2 separate regions of the Homo sapiens genome follow, and region 2 is linked to region 1. The links come from fine-mapping of genetic effects on gene expression. A gene starts in region 1. The other region holds a variant in brackets. All regions are shown on one strand. Distances are from middle to middle. Region 1 holds the start of TMT1B (thiol methyltransferase 1B). Region 2 has its middle 3.4 kb from the start of OR10P1.

What was found. PIP is the estimated chance that this variant, and not a neighbour inherited with it, causes the effect.
Region 2: its variant is the best candidate, but not a certain one, in a credible set for the expression of TMT1B in atrial appendage (GTEx, PIP 0.51).

What each region holds. Positions count from the first base shown.
Region 1 is chr12:55,680,241-55,683,157 of GRCh38, reverse strand. TMT1B (thiol methyltransferase 1B) reads right to left here and starts at 1,422. Exons shown (of 2, transcript NM_152637.3): 1 at 906-1,422. The coding sequence starts at 1,403. RefSeq lists an enhancer at 1,088-1,763.
Region 2 is chr12:55,632,040-55,634,956 of GRCh38, reverse strand. No RefSeq gene overlaps it. Among named protein-coding and RNA genes, the nearest start is that of OR10P1, 3.4 kb to the left of the region's middle. The variant T/C (reference allele first, on the strand shown) is at 1,594.

The DNA.
Region 1 (2,917 bases):
GCACAAGCTGCTTCCTGGACATCGCTGTGAACATCCCAGGGAAACCTCAGGCCCAACTCTTGACTGAAGCTGGGGTTCCTCAAGCTCCTCGCCTCACTATACTCTCCCTAGGTGATCTCAAACCTAGTAAGTCCAAAACAGCTTTCTTCCATCTCAGCAAATGGCACTTTTCATCAGCTCTCCCCTCAGTTGCTCATGCTAGAAACCTGGAAACTATTCTGAACGTTCTCTCCACAGTCTGATGGATTCTACTCTACTTCCCCTACTATCTTTACCTAGAACACTCTTTTATTTTCCCCACCCCGTCCACACTCTGCTTAATCCCTCAGATCTCTCTCTCTCTCTCTCTTTTTATTTATTTATTTATTTTTTTTGATACAGGGTCTCACTCTGTGGCCCAGGCTGGAGTGCAGTGGTGCGATCATAGTTCACTGTAACTTTGAACTCGGGCTCAAGTGATCCTCCCACCTCAGCTTCCTGAGTAGCTAGGACTATAGGCATGTGCCACCACGCCTGGCTAGCTTTTGTATTTTTTTTTTTTTTTTTTTTTGTAGAGACGGCATCTCACTATGTTGCCTTGGCTGGTCTTGAACTCCTGGGCTCAAGTCATCCTTCTGCTTCAGCCTCCCAAGCACAGATCTCGATTTAAACCTCAGTTCCTTAGGTGTCCTCCCCACTCCCCTCCCTGTCCCATGGTGGTAGGTGATCCTCCTGTTGCTTCCACAGCACCCAATTGTGCCCCGTCATGGCACTGGTCATGTCTCCTATTCACCAGCAGGTAGAGGTGGATGGGGTGTCTAATGTGCTACTTACTACCTCAGACGCCCCATTCTGGGGGCCGAACCCTGGGGCGGCTGATGCTGCGTTTGCCTGCCCCACACCCATCCCCTTCCCACCCTGCTTACCGGTCTCAGTACTCTCCGGACCTCCTGCAGGACCTTCCTTGGGCTCTGCACAGAGCACAGCACCAGAGTGCAGACCACCACATCCATGGAGCCATCAGCCAGCTGTCTCATGTCCTCTCCAGGAGCCACCACAAACCGCTCATATTGGAGGTGCCTGTTCTCAGCCATGCTCTTTGTCAGGAACTTCTCAAAGTGGGGATTTGGGTCTAGGCAGGTGACCCTGCAGCCCGGTGGGTAGAACTGAAAGTTGGCTCCGGTTCCGCAGCCCAGCTCCAGTAGGGCCACTTTCCCGGAGGCTCCTGTAAGCCCCTTTATCTGGCTGAAGAGCTCCCGTTTCTTGCTCTCCATCTTGCGGTTGCTCTTGGGAGTCAGCACGGCCATCAGGTAGGGGAAGTAGCTTTTGCACAGGGGCTGCCAGCAGCCCAGCAGAGCCATGAGGTGCAGGGGCAGGGTAAGAAGCAGCACCAGCAGCTGCAGGAGTGGGACCAGGATGTCCATGGCAGACCAGCTCTGAGCTGTGCTTCCGCTGGGGCACTGGCTTTTTCCCTGCTCAGCCTCTGCAGGCGCTGGCGTCCCCTCCCGCTGTGATAGGACTTTGCTCCTTGTCTCCTACTTGACAATTTCCTATTTGCCAGAGTTGAGTGGGTGTATGGAATTCCTCCAGAGGGCGCAGGTCCCACAGCCCCACAAGCTCTTCAATGACTTTTATGTGGGCGGAGGGACAGGTGGTACCCATGTTCCTGAGTTCTGGGGCACTGTGCCCAGCTGAAGGGGGGCAGGGGCTGCTGAGTCATCTCAGAGGGAGTGGGAAGGGGTAAGGGGATATGTTTCAGATGACAGACTCATGGCGGGGGAGTGTCGGGGGCTGGCAGGGCGTTGGGGGTGGGTTGGTAGTGGTGAATGCTGGGGACAGAGTTGACTCATGGGACATATCCTGGCCTCATTTCGTCCTCAGGTCAGGCACTTCAGAGGGGCCATAGGAAGGGAAGGGTGCTCTTGGCAGAGGAAAAAGTAGGTGTACAGGACAGAGACAGCATGCCCTCTCCTGGAAAGGGTGAGAAGTTTAGTTCTGTGGGGAATGGGGTAAGTTGGACAAATAGGGGGAAGTGAGGTCAGAGAATAGCCACTTTTTAGAGATCCTTCCCTCCCTCCCTCCCTTCCTCCCTTCTTTCCTTCTTTCCTTTTTTTGAGACAGGGTCTCTGCTGCCCAGGCTGGGGTGCAGTGGCAGCAGTCTGGGCTCACTGCAACCTCAATGTCCCTAGGCTCAAGTGATCCTCTTACACCAGCCTCCTGATTTTCTGGGACTACAAGTGCATACCACCATGCCCAGCAATTTTTTTTTTTCTGTAATTTGTAGAGACAGGGTTTCACCCTGTTGCCCAGGTTGGTCTTGAACTCCTGGGCTCAGGTGATCCACCCACCTCGACTTCCCAAAGTGCTGGGATTACAGTTGGGAGCCACTGCGCCTGGCTGAGAAGAATTCTTTTTACAAAACATTATTAAACAACTTTTTTTGGAAGAGGCAGTACATTCACTTAGTACAAAATTAAAAAGATACTAAAGAGATTACAGGGAAAATTCTCTCTTCTACTCCTGTGACCCAACCACTCAGATCTCCTCTCTGGAGGCACTAAATGCCATATTGCCAATTTCTTGTGAATCCTTCCAGAGATGACCTGTGAACGAGCAGGGAACACACACACCACGTGTTTAGATCCATGTACATATATACATATACATATTCCCTTTTCTTTTACAAATAGTAGTATATTGTACACACTCTTGTATACCTTGCTTCCCCCCCTTCTTAACAATGTATTGGATTTAGTAGATAATAGCAAATGGGTTTCCAAAGTGATTGTACCCATTTACACGTCCACCAGCAATATTTGGTTTTATGTGTCTTTTATGTGTTCATATTATTATTGATGCATAGATTCCTATTTTATTCACTGATTTGTAACCTAATACCCTATTTATTTATTTACAGTTTCTTTGAGGTATAATATAT
Region 2 (2,917 bases), 48 kb after region 1:
TAAATTTAGGCAGCTAGTTTGACAAAGACAGGAAACTGGACTGGACTTTCAGAAGTCCTGGTCCCAAGATTCACGGAGCTTTGATCACCCATATTGACCCACGCCATGAGGTTAGTCTGGCCATCTTCATATTTAGGAAACAGAGCCTCAAAGTTCTATCCATTGCACTTAACTTTCATCCCACCCTCACTCTGCTCTCTCAACATATTTTTTTTTTTGTGGCCTTAAACCATTTATTCTAGCTTATGTTTGGAGAGTGCTGTGTGCTGGGGATTATACAGTATATCAGTTGACCTTTATAACAACATTAGTGACAATTGTTATTTTGTCATTGCAGATAAAGAACCAGAGCTCTGAGGGTTTAAACGACCTATGCAAGATCACAAAGTCAGTGAACAGCAGAACCAGAATTGTAATTTTGAGCCTGAGGTATCAACCACATACTTACTATATGTCTTGTGAGGCCAATAGCCTCACTCTACACTTTTGGGAGATGAACTTGCATGTAGTCAGTTTGGACAGAAGGAGTATCTGAGTTCATTAGTCCTCTCTACTTTCGTCCATAAATCTTCATGACATTTTGGGCTGGCTGATTAAAAAGGAAAAAAAAACTTTTCAGATGTCCACACCACCAAGAAAACACGAAATAGATCCTGATGTTTTCAAATTTTTAAAATGTTGTTTTTTTCAATTAAAAATATTTAGGAAACATTTGGAATAAATCCACCATTATTCCATCACCTTAAATTCTTTTTTTCTCATATATCACTCTCAAGTCTTTGTCCCACTGCAAACCCATATTCTATGCTTGTAGTCATAGTGTATATACCTTATGTCTTCTTTTCCTTTTTTAATGTTTGCTGTAAGCATTTTGCCATGAGACCGCATGGTATTCTGAACAATCTTTCAAAAAAAATTCTTGTAGTAGTCCATTGAATTTCTCCACTAACATTTAACAAACGCTTCTCATCCTTGTGCACTTTACGCTGTCCCATCTTTTTTTTGCTATGGTAGACAATGATGAAAACAATATTTTCATGTGTGTCTCAGTTTGCTCTGTTAGCTTATTCCCTTAGGGTAAATTAAGAGTAATATTATTGGCTAAGCATGTGGACATTTTTATGGGTCTCGCTGTGTTATAATTGTTTTGGATTCCTGTAGCTGGACACATGAGTGGCAATACCAACCTTTCATCTCTTAGTAAAACAGGTCCCTTAAAAAAAATTCAATAGCTTTAGGGGTACTAGTGGTTTTTGGTTACATGGATGAATTGTATAGTGATGAAGTCTGGCATTTTAGTGCACCCGTCATCCAAATAGTGTACATTGTGCCAATAGGATTTTTTTTTTTTTTTCCCCTCAGCCCTCTCTCACCCTGTCCTCTTCTGGACTCCTTGACCCTCCCTGTCCTCATCCAGGCCTGTCCCTCCCTCCATACTCACCTCACCTTTTCCACACTGTGAGCATTTCTTCACTCTCAGACCTCTAATTAGATTTTGCCTTAAGATGTCGTCCGTGAGGGTGGAGAGGCAAGTTTCCCCCAGATTGTCTGTTCTTCCTTCCCTATTTCCACTCTGACTCTGATAATTTCCCT[T/C]TTCCTCTTCCCACACATCCTGACACAGTTGGGACAATCTTCAGAGAGACATTGGCCCTGAAGTCACCACTAAACTTTTCAAAGCCTCCCACAGAGGATCGCTGAGAAAGACAGAGTAACTGCCCGCAGGGTCACAGAGAGGGGATGAAGTTCTTTTTAAAAAACACTATTTTTTATTGTGGTGAAAACATATAACATAAAATTTACTATCTTAACCATTTTAAGTGTATGTCTCAGTATTGTTAAGTATATTCAACAGAGCTCTAGAACTTTTTCATTTTGCAAAATGAAAACTCTATACCCATTAAGCAATTCTCCATTTCCCCCTTCCGTGGCTCTTTTTAAAACCATAAAACCATCCGTATACCTCCAATAAGCCTTAGAGAGACAGGCAGATGGCAAATTGATCAGTGAATGGGCATGTGGCTTGGGGAACAGCTAACCTGTGGTTAACCAGCTAGATGGACAGAGGATGACCAGCAGGGTGTGGCTGGCTGGCTACAGGACTGGTTACCCGTGACCCCTGGATGCAGGAGATGAGGCTGTTAAAGGCTGAATGGAACAGAAAGCAGATCTTGAGGGGTAGCTTTGACATCTTGGGGGCAAGGGAGTTGGGATTCTGGAGCCTAATGGGGTTGCGGGAAATGGGGGAAATGAGGGAAGGACAACATTTATTGGGTCAGAGAGGTCTGGGGGAGCACAGCCAGGCAATAAACTAGCTTTTGTTCTTTCAGATTTTTTGTTTTGTCTAAAGTATTAATGGGAGCTGCACATGGTGTATATGTGTGTGTGTTGGAGAGGGTGTGGGGCAGCAAAGGAGGATGCAGGCAGCTGTCTGTGGGATCTGGGATGGGACCCATTAACAGGAGCCTGAGAGATGCTGACCATAGACAGTACTGAGGCTGTGATGCCCAGCTGACTTACACACTGCACGCAAACCCACAAGCCTGTACACACTATCCACTGCCTCACTCCATCACTTCACCCCACACACCCCATCCTATTAGACATACCACAGACATGCCTATGACACGATCACCACACTTATAACATGCTACACATACCCCACAGCATACCTACTCACACCATACATAAAAGGTTTGCACAGTCTGCGTATATACACACTTGCCTTGTTCTGTTATGTGCAGTTTTATCTGGCAGAAATTGTCCAACATTCTCTGTCTCCTTCCCAGCCCTTCTCCCTGTCCAGCCAGCTTAATGATATCTGAATCACACCTCTGCAAATGCAATAGTAGAGATTTGGGAACCGTCTCTGGACTTTTTTCTCCCACGCCCAGGGACAGATACTGACTCCCAACACACA